Homo sapiens: one gene and its partner. The protein of the gene in region 2 interacts with the protein of the main gene of each other region in a biochemical or structural test. Each region holds a gene or a part of one and is shown on either strand. Other genes may lie near its edges.

What was found.
Region 1: the proteins of RGS9 (region 2) and DRD3 form a complex in vitro, tested with the Homo sapiens proteins (one study listed by BioGRID).

The regions. Positions count from the first base shown.
Region 1 is NC_000003.12:114,176,044-114,183,124, reverse strand, and holds the start of DRD3 (D(3) dopamine receptor), read left to right. Parts: upstream 1-4,072; 5' UTR 4,073-4,468; intron 4,469-6,931; exon of another isoform or gene 6,932-7,081. UniProt on the Homo sapiens protein: Dopamine receptor whose activity is mediated by G proteins which inhibit adenylyl cyclase. Promotes cell proliferation.
Region 2 is NC_000017.11:65,203,355-65,210,383, forward strand, and holds part of RGS9 (regulator of G-protein signaling 9), read left to right. Parts: intron 1-808; coding exon 809-947; intron 948-4,567; coding exon 4,568-4,653; intron 4,654-7,029. UniProt on the Homo sapiens protein: Inhibits signal transduction by increasing the GTPase activity of G protein alpha subunits thereby driving them into their inactive GDP-bound form. Binds to GNAT1. Involved in phototransduction; key element in the recovery phase of visual transduction.

The DNA of each region.
Region 1 (7,081 bases), on a different chromosome or scaffold from region 2:
CACTCATGCACTATTGATGGGAATGTAAAATGATACAGCTGCTGTGGAAAACAGTATGGTAGTACCTCAAAAAATTAGAAACAGAATTACCACATGAACCAGCAATTCCATTTCTGGATATATATCTAAAAGAGCTGAAAACAGGATCTCAAAAAGATATCTGAACACCTATGTTCATAGCAGTGTCATGCACAATAGCTAAAATGTGAAAGTAATTTAAGTGTCATCCATAGATGAACAGAAAAGCAAAATGTGGTACAATTGAATATTATTCAGCCTTGAAAAGAAAGAAAATTCTGACATATACTTCAATATCAATGAATTTTGAGAACATTATGCTAAGTGAAATAAGCCAGTCTGAAAAAGACAAATATAGTAGGATTCCACTTATATGAGGTACTTAGAGAATCGCTTAAACCTGGTAGGCTGAGGTTGCAGGGAGCCGAGATTGCACCACTGCACTGCAGCCTGGGTGACAGACGGAGACTCTGTCTCAAAAAACAGAAAAAGAAAAAAAGAAAAAATTAGATGATGATGGAGGGTAGTAAAAAACAGGAAGAAAATAGGTCGAAAAGTTAAGATAGAAGTAGAAAAGGGAGGTAACATGCAAGCACACAGAAGGGTAGATGCAGATATAAAAAACCACTATCATTTATTTATTTCCTTCCTTACTATTACTCTGCTACCTATAATGAGTGATTTGGTACAAATCTGATTGATTGAGAAGCCTCCTTCTGTTATTTCCTGCCATTCTCTTGTAGAAAGGAAGAAAGTGGTGCTCAATATTAGATAATAATAAGTGAGTTGAACTATTTTTCTTTCAAGAACTGTATTACAGCAGCAGAATGAATTCAAACATAAAACCTAACACTTTCTCAGATGGTTCTCATCTATCACCAGATCTCATTGGAGAGGAACAGGGGCTAAGGTTGAGAAGAAATAACCATACTACTGGACCACTCACTGCATTTGCCAACTTTCATTTACACTTTTACAACTTGAGGTCTGATTCCAGTGAAAAACATACTGAGAGGCTCTTGTTCAGACCAGATCAGTATCATGCAGTTTAAGATCATCATGATAATCAAATCTTCCAGTTCACAGTAAGGAATGCCAGTTATAATAAGACATGGAAACAAAATGTTCCTTTATTCATATAGGTCCTGCAAATTGCCTCCCCATAATGCTTCATTTAGTCTCCATACTGTCCTAGTGAGTGGGAACTCAGTGGGGGTTTAAAGTGGTGTACTCAATGGTCGGTGCTCAAGGCAAGGTTTCTTGTATCATTCCCTGGAACAGCATTTCAAAGACAAGAAGAGAATAGTCCCACCACAAACTTCACATCAATTTCCTTTCAAACAAAATCACTGAGTAACCATATGTATCAGAAGCCCACCATCTCTCTTCTCTTGCTCTAGACTTGCCACTTCAAGTTGAAAACATAAAGACTTTCCCTGATGAAGGGCCATTGGCTAGTACATGAGAATGTTCCAGCCATGCTATTGAGATGGAGTTTCTGGAAGGAAGATGAAAAAAATGATCTATATTTTTCTTGATTTCTGCCCAGGCATATCTCTTCTGTAGGCATCTTGGAGTTCTTCCCAGAAGGCATATCTCAATGCCAATCATGAATAAGGGTTCCACTTACTTAAAAGAATAAAATTGTTTGTTGTTGTATGAATGGGAAGTGCCAGATAAAAGGAGCAATTGCTAATCTTCACCTATAGTGAAGTCCAGAGAGAAAGGATCACTTCATTTACCCTGCTTCTCTTCTATTTCCACACCAATCCCTCCCCATTCACCACGGGGGTCAAGGAGTCTACCAGAGACAGCTAAGTCAGAACAGAGTTGACTGCCTAGATGTGTGATTTTAGGCATGTCAGTTAATTTTCCTGTCTCTTGTTCCTACACAGAATTAGAGTCTATATCACTCTTTATCTTCCTTTTACTTTTGCCAAAGGAAGGCACTAAAAACATGCTGAGGAATATCTTGCCAGCATTTACAACTGCCCTTGAAGAGAGAATATGTGTTCTCAACACAGAAAGTTAGAAATAGGGTTCTTCCTACTACATTCACGCATTATCAAGATAGCATTATCATTAGGCACAATGTCTTCAAATGTTAAAGAAAATAAACATAGGATACTGAAACGTGAAAACCATGTTGCTGAAAATGAGTGATATGAGGTTCTTAACTCCTTAGAAGGCCTTTGCTTCATTCTGCTCACATAACAGCCTGACATTACTCCCTGCTTTTATATGTCAGACAAGCCAAGTTTTAGCAGTGCATATTCTCTTGGTCCCCTTATCCAAGGGAAGAAAAGCCTTGGAGTTCACATTCAACCCAGGAGTTCTAGTCTTAGGGCATGTTCAATATAGTTATGTCATATAACTAATACATTTATGCCCAATAAGTTATGGGCAACCTTGGATATGGAACCTAACCTCTCTAACCCTCTGTATTAGTTTGCTAGGGATGCCATAACAAAATTCCACAGGCTAGGTGAATTAAACAAGAGAAATTTATTTTTGCACAGTTTTGAAGGGTAGAAATCCAAAATCAACAGGGTGGCAGGTTTGGTTTCTCCTGCAAGACCCCTCTCCTTGGCTTGCAGACAGATGCCATCTTCCTGTGTCCTTTCCTCTGTGTGCACATTTCTGGTGCCTCTTCTTTTTCTTATAGGAAACCAGTCATATTGGATTAGGGCGTACCCTCCAGGCCCCATTTTAACTTAACTCACACTTCAAAGATCTTACATCCAAATACAGTCATGTTCTAAGGTTAGGGCTTCAACACTTGAATTTTGGAATGACACAATTTAGTCCATAACAGCCTCTATAAAGATGGCATCATGAAGACTGATGTAATATAATTTACAGAATGATTTCTAAATCATCTAAATGATTTCTAAATATAATTATATACAAATGTATTATTAATATTATTATTACTGTCATAATTATTATTCTCTCTGACATATTATCAGTCTTTTGGGAAGTTTAAATTTTCTTCTTTTGGAAGACTATACCATAGTGGTTAAGAGAATTAGGTTGTTTAGATCCAAATCTTGGGTCAGCCACTTGTTAGCTGTGTGACTTTCAGACATTATACTAACCTCCATAAGCTTTAATTTTCCTATCCATAAATTAAGGATGGTAAAAAATAGTACCTGCCTTGTAGGGTTGTTGAAAGGATTAAAAGGAGCAATGCATTAAAATGACTGGCTAAAAGTACATGCTCAATAAATGATGGTTGTTATCAATAGCAGTATTTAGACCTTGTTGATGCTGCTGCCTTCTTTCTCAGCCAGCAGAGGTCTCCATCATAGTCAAACAAGAGCTAGCTTCCCTATAACTGCACCGCAGTTGCCAAGCACATCCACTGTTGGCAGAGAAAACAGCCGAAGAATTACCACACTGACCAAACAGAGGAGAAAAAAAAGAGAGAGAGAACAGGAAATGGTTAGGATGCCACAGTAAAATGTAAGATGAACAGGTGACCATAAGTTAGGATTGTTTATGTTCTACTGCTGACTTTCACTGATATTGTCCTTGGTTGCATCTCACTTTAGCTTGTTCCAAACCAGTTTTAAAAAAGGTATCTATGTATATATCACAGAGAAGCAGTAAGAATGAATTGGCAAATATTTATGAAGTCCTCTGAAAACAAGAAGTGCTGCTAAGTAAACATTTAACATTTCTTACAGTATTAAGCTTATTTCATCCTTATTGCCAGTTATACGCCATGCCTCAGTTTTGCTACCTTTGTAATATGTTTCCTTTAACCTTCTTTTCCCAGACAGGCTTACACCTCCAAGTTCAATTATCCTGTCAATTGTGTTTTAAATTGTACTGATTTCCATTAACCAATTGTGGTATCAATTTGATGATCTGTTCCTTCTGAACTAATCATCTTTACACCCACCAAAATCTGGAAAGGCAATTAAACTGAGGAAGGTGAGAGTTATTCAAGAGAAATTAAAGCATAAAGGTAAAAACAGTGGAAAAACTAAGATTAAAAAGAGCACTGAGGAGAAAATATACATGTACTAAAAAGCACAGTATCCGAGCAGATAGAGAGACAAAGAGGAAAAGAGAGCGAGGTAGAAAACGGATACTGCCTATGCCTACTCCATCCCTCTTTCAGCACCAAGGACAGAACCTCTGAGCGGCTGACCCAAGCAACGCTCAGTTTAGGGTCCCTCCCAAATCCTCTAAAGAAAACGGATACATTCGAAAGCAGCTATGAAACATGCACTAAGGTCTAATAGGGAAGCTGGAAAAGCAGCACTCAAGTAATTTCACCTTAGAGGCAAAAATGGGTGATTTCTTTCTGTTCATTTCATAGTTTCTGAGTCCTGAGAAAGGCAAAGTTTGCTTTGCTTGGGTATGTCTGCTGTCAGTAAATGGCTGCAGGAGCCGAAGTGGTAAACTCCTCGGTCTCCAGAAATCAGAAGAAAATTTTAGGGTAAGTAATTTTTCTTTTCGTTTCTAATTTAGGACATAGTATTTTCCTCAAGGTTATTTAATCAGCTTGGGGTTCTGTGGATCTCTAAAAATATGCATTAAAACTCAATATCCACTCTTATTTAAAAACCAAAGCCCTGAGGAAATGGTTTTCTTTTTCTTCTAAGTGGTTGGACAGCAGAAACCTTTTATATTCCTTTTTCTTTTATTTTTTCCCCCAAAATTGTATCCTTGTGGGCTCTAGAAGCTATATCAAGGAAGAATTAAAAGATAGAAAACAAAAAGCTGTTATTATTTCTAGGATTTGTATGGAAGTTGATTGTATTCCTCTTAAGGATTTTACTTAATTGTAAGGGTCTGTTATTTTAAACTCCTCAATTCAGCACCCTGGCAATTCAGAGCTGAAGGTTTGGAGAGGCACTATTTTCAATGGTCTATTTAAAGTCAGGCTGTTTCTAAGTCAGAATCCAATTATTCCCAGCAGAGATATGTAGTACTTGAGATGATGATTGTGTATGTTTCCTTTGATGATGGTATATGATTTTTAGGGTATTGTTATTTAATTGTGAGACTTCCATTACTTGCTGTAGCTTACTGGGGCAACAGAAGTCATTGCAATTAGGTATTTGTTCCAGTTCATGCATTTAGTTTAATTGAATACCATCAAAATACATGCATGAATAATAATGCAGCAATAGCAAAGTGAAACTTGGATTCTAAACTCATTGTGCATGACTATTTCACTTTATAGGTGAAGCCTTTGCTTACTGATACTAAAAGGTCTGTAAAATATCTGTCCTTAGATAAGAGTGAAGAACCACTGCTTGACATGGCATTAGGATGTCTTATAGTCAAGGAGAAGTAGAGACAATGTGAGAAAGATTCTTACTCGGCACTCATTTATTTGTAGTTGAATATTTTCAAGGGTCTGTATGGCTAGCAGTGAGCAAGGGTATTGAGCAAGGAAAATACTGACAGTATCCAAATGGGTGCCTAATATTAAAGCATCCATACAGAAGGCTATTTGTTATGGAATATACATTAAAGCAAATACCGAACAGTTTCTACTCAATATCAGATTCAATTTCTAATGCATTGAAGTTTGTCATCAATTAATATTTGCTTATTGATTGATTTATTTGCTGAGTTCCCCATTTTATCTCTGATTAGAATGGTAGGATGCTCAGTCTCTAGAGGTTGTGAAGGAAAGTGAGTATGCTCTGCTTTACTAGTCAGGTTTAATGAGGGGAAAAAACTGTTATCTTAGCTACTCAGTAACCAGCAATAGTTTTTCTCTGTACATTTACCAACAATGTAAATGTGCCCAAATACATAAATATGCTATGTATTGCAATCCATTTGTGAATCTTTTTCAGGAAAATAGGCAGCAATTTGCAAGAAGAAAGTAGCATAGAAATGCTAAAGACTATCTCTAATAATAATAACAATGTAACTCCCACTGGCTCTATGAGCAGTGTGCACCTGCATTACTTCACCAAGCCTAGTCAGATGATGTGACATGTTCACATACTCTGAACAAGTGAGATTGTAAAATTAGTACCCATTTCACATTTGTCTGCCTCACCCCAAAAAGTGGCATAGTTAAGTGGCATAGTTAAGAACATGAGCTCTGGAATCAGACAAATCTTGGGTTGAATCAACTCCATCATTTACTGGTTTGTGATCTCAGCAAGATATTTAACCTCTCTGTGACTCACCTTTTTTATCTAGAAAACTTGATAGGATAATAGTGCTTACCTTCTTCATCAGGTTGTTGTGAGGTTGAATGATGATAATGCTTATAAATTTTAGCTATAATTATTAATTTTATCAGGCAATATAGCAAGTCCGAATTACAGCCCAGACCAGAAAAGCTCTGGCGACTGGTGGTCAGGAGTCGTCTGAGTAAAAGATTAGATGTAGCAACAGCCAGAGATCTGTGAAATGAGTGAAGATGTGGTCATGGAACCCTGTTACTGAAGCGTTTTGTTCTGGGTTGAGTAAAATCCATCTCAACTCGGGAATGACAGTTTTGTGGGTTTTTTTTTACTTTGAGACAGGATCTTGCTCTGTCACCCAGGCTGGAGTGCAGTGGCACAATTATAGTTCACTGCAGCCTCTAACTCCTGGACTCAAGCAATCTTCCTGCCTCAGTCTTTCGAGTAGCTGGGAATACAGGCACATGGCATCACACGCAGCTAATTTTTCTTTTCTTTTATTTTTGCAAAGATGGAGTCTCACTATGTTGCCCAGGCTGATCTCAAACTCCTGGCCTCAAGTGATCCTTCCATCTCAGCCTCCCAAAGTGCTGGGATTACAGGAATGAGCCCCCAAGCAGGGCTGGGAATGACTAACGTCAACTTCCATGCTGCTATAAGTATTAAAATGCATGTAAAGTACTCATACTTGCCACACAGTAGTAGCCCAGATGTAGTTGTCTTCATCTTCATTTGTTTTCTTACAGAAAGAGAACAAATAATTAAAACTCTGTAAGTCTTAATGAGGTGCTAAGGAGGAACCCCACGAATGTTTCAGGAAGACTGTTATTCAGCACTGAGGGATTGAACATCAGCAAAGCAGGACAAATGTCATAACTGATGGGGACCTGACAACT
Region 2 (7,029 bases):
ATTGCCTTACACACAGTGACGCACACACAACTCCTGATTCCAAAAATCTGCTACAGGAAGCCCGCTGCCTCTGCCATTAGACCAGTTTCCTTCCCCAGGCTCCCTGGTTATGTTATGTAAATCTCAGTTTCAATTCCAAAATTTTAATGTACATCTTAGAAAGGTAGGAAAATATTCATATGAGTATTTCTAATTCAGCAACAGCTCAGAACTGGAAATACTGAGAGAGCTCTGCATCCCGACATCCCAGGTAGAGCCACGGGCTCAGGAAGTGTGGCCAAGTTTGGTCTAATTGGGAGCCTTGGCCTGTCTGCCCAGCGGGTCAGACCTCTGGGTTCTGGGACTATGGGCTGCCTCTCGACACAGCATGTGAAATTCATTACAAAGCACATGTGGGTTGGGAGGAGAGCAGAGACCCCCAGAACACCTGTGTGAAGGTGTCTTAGCCTGGTCCCAGGTTGCCCCTGGAATCCTGGTGCAGAAGGTGTGAAGTTGGAGGCTGAGTTCTTCACCCTCATGGCCAGGACCTAATCCGACCTGGGCCCCAGCCCCTTCTTGCTCTCTCTCCTGGAGGTTGGAAACATCAAAGTTAAATATTCATATTCCCAATACTGGAAGTTTCTTGCTTCAAGGAAAAATTGCTTGACAACCTCTTCAAAAGTTCATGCTCTTTAGTGTCTCCTAAAAAAACCACCACCCTCACCCTCGGTAACCGATTCGTATCAGTCCTTCCCTCCCAAGCAGCTGTGAGCTATCCATGAATTGACTTGGTTTAGTTACTTTTGCTAACATCTCCCTCCCACCCCAGGCTGTTCCTGGCCCCGGGGGCGAGGCGCTGGATCAACATAGATGGCAAAACCATGGACATCACAGTGAAGGGGCTGAAGCACCCCCACCGCTATGTGCTGGACGCCGCACAAACCCACATTTACATGCTCATGAAGAAGGTAGGTGGGTCCGTGCTGTGGATACGGGGTCCAGATAGGCTTTCTGTCACTAAGTACCCGGAAAATTCTTTAGATATAGGAAAAAGAGAGAGGATACGTGGATAGAGCTTTGCCGGTTGTGGCATGCAGCTAAGCATGGGGGCTCATGTCTGTAATCCCAGCTCTTTGGGAAGCTGAGATGGGAGGATATCTTGAGCCCAGAAGTTTGAGACCAGCCTGGGCAACACAGTGAGACCCTGTCTTTATATAAAAAAGAAAGAGAGAGAAAGAGAAAAACCCCAGAATTGTCAACCGTCTCTTCCACCTGTCCACTGGGGTGGACTTGCCTTGAGCCCCTCACCCACGGGCCTAGAGGAACTCCTGTAGAAGCTGTGTGCATCCTTACGGGCCCCACTCTGCAGCAGTAGACAGGTAGGAGTAATGGCATTAGTAATGACAACATTATAATAACAGCCATCATTCGTTGAGGGCTTACAAGGTGCAGTCGCTGTGCGAAACACAGAACTTTATGCTCAAAGACAGCCCACAAGTTAGGCTTTGCTGCTCCAGAATCTAGTGGCTTGGTCAAGGTCTCACCAGAGATGGGGCTGGGATTCATAGCCAGGTCTGCCTGGGTTTCAAGGCCGAGCTCTTAGTTTCTGCTGCAGAGTGATGGCAATTCTCACCACCCTGGCCCCAGGCAAATATTACACATAGAGGCGTAGTGTCTAGGAGAGACAAATTTGTGTGTGTGTGATTGTAGTAAGACCCTGTGAGAATTTAGATAGCCCTCTGGATTATTAACAAAGTGCGAATGCGGTGGGAATTTAAAAAAAAATATGTGAAGGGTACCTGAGAGAAAAATCAATCATTTTCTTAAGAAACTAGAATCGGAGGCTCAGAGTTAGCCTTAAAGAACTTGTCTAGTTTGATTCTTCTTTGGTGCCATCCTTGACAAGACTTTCTTTGGGTGCTTCAACTTCTCATTATGGCAATGATTTCTTTAAGGGCAAAGTATCTTTATAGGATATAGGTTATGTGATATAGGCTATTTGATATAGGTTATGTGATATAGGTTATATGAGATAGATTATGTGATATAGGTTATGGATATTGGTTATGTGATACAGGTTATGTGATATAGACCATCTGATATAGGTTATATGAGATAGATTATATGACATAGGTTGCGTGATATAGCTTATATGAGATAGACTATGTCATACAGGTTATATGATATAGGTTATGTGATATAGGCTATTTGATATAGGTTATATGATATAGGTTATATGAGATTATATGACATAGGTTACATGATGTAGGTTATATGATATAGGTTATAATGTGATATAGGCTATCTGATATAGGTTATGTGATATAGGCTATATGAGATAGATTATATGATATGAGTTATATGTTATAGATTGTAATGTGTTATAGGCTATCTGATGTAGGTCATGTGATATAGGTTATATGATATACATTATATGATATAGGTTATGTGATATAGATTATGTAATATAGGTTATATGATATAGATTATATGATATAGGTTATGTGATATTGGTTATGTGATATAGATTATGTGGTATCAGTTATGTGATATAGGTTATATAATATAGGTTGTGTGATATAGGCTATCTGATATAGGTTATGTGATATAGGTTATATGATATAGATTATATGATGTAGGTTACATGATGTGGGTTATATGAGATAGGTTATATGATGTGGTTTATATGATATAGGCTATGTGATATAGGCTGTGTGATATAGGTTATGTGATATAGGTTATATGATATAGGTTATGTATATAGGTTTGTGTGAATGGTAAATGCTGATTAGCTTTCCTGATTTATATTTCTTCTATTTAGTCTTTTATTGTATCATTTAAAAGTATTTTTACTTTGTTTTTAAAGCATGTAATAATTTAGAATTGCCGCCAAGCCAGATTAGCCATTTTCATCATTTTTTGAATCAGTGGGGTGTTTCTGTGTGTTTTGAATCAGTGGCTGTCTCTTTGTTTTTGTTACTAGACGATTCACAGCAGGGTTTCTTTAATAATAATCCTCTTTAATGTATTTTAAAACGTTTTGGTTCTTAAAAATGTAGTTTTCGGCTGGGCGCAGTGGCTCACGCCTGTAATCCCAGTACTTTGGAAGGCTGAGGTGGGCAGATCACGAGGTCGGGAGTTTGAGACCAGCCTGGCCAACATGGTGAAACCCCGTCTCTACCAAAAATACAAAAATTAGCTGGGCGTGGTGGTGGATGCCTGTAATCTTGCTACCCAGGAGGCTGAGGCAGGAGAATCACTTGAACCTGGGAGGTGGAGGTTGCAGTGAGTTGAGATCGTGCCACTGCAATCCGGCCTGGGCGAAAGAGTGAAACTCCGTCTCAAAAAACAAACAAACAAACAAACAAAAAAACCTGTAGTTTTCATACGGCTTTTTAGGGGATGCCCAGGGAGGCCAGTTACTAGCCAGAATGGAACAGTCATTGGTAACTGCAGAAAAGAATGGCATATATGCCCACTGGACTCCCTATATGCCATTACAGCTATGTCCTATGGTGAAACACTCAACGTATCCCAGTGGCTCCATGGTCCCTATTCCTAGACTCTATCCTAGTTCTCATAACTTTTACTGCTCCCACTTAGTCTTTAGAATAGTGCCATTTCAATAAATTTTTAAAATACCTCAATCCCTGGTTTGTTGCAGTGGCCTTTGTCCCATATTGGGTATGACTAGAGTTTTCCGCTCGCTTAAAAGTAACGAGCATTCATGAAGCTTCTCTGAAATTGCCCAGAGTCCCAGTAAACAGCCCCATAACTGGACTCTACGCGTTGGTTGTTTTTGTTTTTGCTTTGGTATTCTCTTGCCTTTACACCCAAAACACAGGGCAGAAAGGGATGTCAATGGCTTAGAAGTGGGCTCCATACTCCTGGCTGCTCATCTTCCTTGGAAGAAAGTCTTGGAGAGGAGAGGTCAGATGTGCTCTTGTCTCATGCTGGCTTCACTGAACCACTCCAAGGTGGATCTTCATGTGTAGGGTTACAGACTGTAATTCTCAAACTTAAAGGTGCAGCAGAATTACCTGGAGACTGTTCAGGTAGTTGTTAATTGTTAATTGTTTAGGTGTCCTCATGTGAACAAATGATGACAGGCAATGTCTCCATACATGACCAGCTGTCTCACCTGTTTGGCATGTAGCATGCAGCATATGAGAATAAGTGAAACAAATTAAGCAGTTCTGGGTCTAGTGTACTTTTAACTGTAGCAGCTTTTATGCAACTGGCTACATTTACAACATAGGCTGAATCACAGACAATGTTGATAGGATCTGAAGCTGTGAGCTGTAAAACCTGAGACTGTTCAGGCTCAGGGTGAATCACTCCCAGAGTTTCTCATCAGGACGGCTGGGGCAGGCCTGAGAAGTTCCCAGGTGAAATTGATGCTTCTGGAGGGGACCACACTTGAGAACCACTGCTCTCAACACCTCCCCCAACACCTTTCACCCAAGGAGACAAATTCTCATAACTTTTCCATTCTACTGCCAAGGGAGGCTTGAAAATGGCAAGGGTATTGGTTTGATTTGACTGCTTTTTTCTCTCATAATTACTGTTGTTTTCTTGTTCCCACTAGGATTCTTATGCTCGCTATTTAAAATCTCCGATCTATAAGGACATGCTGGCCAAAGCTATTGAACCTCAGGAAACCACCAAGAAAAGGCAAGTGGAATTATCTGTAATTGCTGGCTGCCTGCTGCTTAGTTTACAGAGAAGTGAGGGTCTCTTTCAGCCAAATGGCTATTATGGAGATATTTGCTTGATGAAAATATTGGGGACTGGGAAGTATTGCTCAGGGAATGAGTGCCTCATTTGCTTCATAATGCCCTGAAATCACTCTAGCAAGATTTCCTTAGTAATTACCACCACTAAGTTTTGTTTCCCCTAAAGCTGGCTTGAAAGAGTTTAGAGGATCAGACCAATAATTACCCTTATCACAAATGGAAGCTTCTCCTTGGTTTTTTAACTGCTACTCGTTACCTCCAAACTGATGTATGGGAATTAATTAAGGTACATCCTTGTATTTAAATTGTTCTAAGACCTTAGAGAGAATAGCAGATTGCACCCCAAGAGAAAATGCTCAGTGAAGGGGAAACGGACAGTAACGGGCTAGGTATTCTTGCTGCCTCCGGGGACCATGTTTTAGAAGTCCATGAACTTGTTCATTCTCACTTTTCTCATTGGAGATGTGGATCATCTCATCTGGTAGAGCCATTGGGACAATGGACGAAATAATGTCCTGAGGGGCAGATTGAACTCTTTTCCGGGGGAATTCAATCTACAAGGATTGAAGATTTAAAATATAAATTGAATGGCAGCTTGAACAAAACTGTAAGGCTTTGGCAGAGGTTTTTCCACTGGCAATCGTGTGTCCTGTCCCCCCCAAAGTGAGTGACTGTTCCCCTGTTTGCTGGGTCAACCCACACTGGGCTCCTTTCCAGCATCTTCCATCAATTCAAAAGGGGGATGGCCGGACCAGAGCCTTTATCAAAGGAGAAAAAACAACAACAACAACAAAAAAAACCAACTTGGCTTCATTCTTGAGGATAATGGCCCTGTTATGAAAAGGAGAGAAAGAAGGTCTTTGTGGTGCTATTCTTCTGGGTTTACCAAGTAAGGAAGGGAGTTCAGTGCCCCTGGGGACTTAAAAGCTTCTACTTTAAGCCAGAAGAAAGGCCTGTAATAGCTCCAGTAGTTCTGCCAGAAAGTAATGAGGGGACAAAAGAGGAGTCTCATACCTCTCTCTCCAGATATTTTAGAAGTTGGGGCAGACGTGAGAATTCTCACTATTGTGAGTGAGAATTACACGTGAATGCATTCGTAAAGTGTGAAGCCTGGTCTGTGTCCATACCAGGACTACAGTGGGTGTGAATTTTGTTCCATGATCCCAGGTATAAGACAATGTATTCAAACTCAATTTTTGCATGACAAGTTACCCCTAGCTCCAAGCCTTCCTCTTGGCAGGGCTGGTGAGAAATCCAATGTCAGTGTCAGGCTTTACATCCTGGTAGGGGAGCCCTTCTTCTCCTTAAGATAGATATAAGAGTTCAAGGGGCTTATGTAGTCAAGGGGCTTATGTAGTCCAGAAATATGGAGTATGTTGCAGGTCTTTGTCTCTTATTGCTGCTGAAGTTCTTGGCTCCAAGCTTACGTGGGCCCTCAAAGGCAGGTGGGCTCCACTGCTCACTGCCCACTACATCACTTGGATACCTAGAGCTTTGTCCTGGCTCCTAAGGCCATGGCAGGGAGAGTTTGGTTCCAGGAATCCAGTTTGGCTTTGAAGAAGGTTCTGGCATGTGTCAAGATATTGCACATGAGCAGGGTACCACCAGCCCACCAGCCCTCTTCAGGCCTCTTCCCTCTTTCTCTGTTCACTGGGGCCTAGCTATTTTGGACAGTCCAGCTCTTTCCTTCCTTCCCAGAACCATAGCTTTTGAAAACAAATGCTCCAGCCAGGCGCAGTGACTCACGCCTGTAATCCCAGCACTTTGGGAGGCTGAGGCGGATGGATCAGTTGAGGTCAGGAGTTTGAGACCAGCCTGGCCAACGTGGTGAAAGCCTGCCTCTACTAAAAATATAAAAATTAGCCTGGTGTGGTAGTACATGCCTGTAGTCCCAGCTACTTGGGAGTCTGAAGCATGAGAATGGCTTGAACCTGGGAGATGGAGGTTGCAGTGAGCCGAAGTCGTGCCACTGCATTCCAGCCTCGGTGATTCAGAGAGACTCTGTCCCCGCTGCCCACCCCCCAACCGCCCCAAAAAAGAAAAGAAAATAAACAAATGCTCCAACTCTCTCCAGTACCCAAGCCTTCATTATCCACTTCTTTCATGAAGATGTTACAAAAAGTTAAGATAACAAATTGATTTCTACATACTGTAGAAGTTCAATGCAACTTCGCCAACAAAAGGGTCTTCCTTGTGCCTGACCTAAAATCTGATGGCAGTTGGTACTCACTCTGGTCTCATCCTCCAAGTGGGGAGAAAGGAGCCAAGGTTGGACCCCACTGGAGGTTCACTGGAAAAAGGAGGGAACAAAATA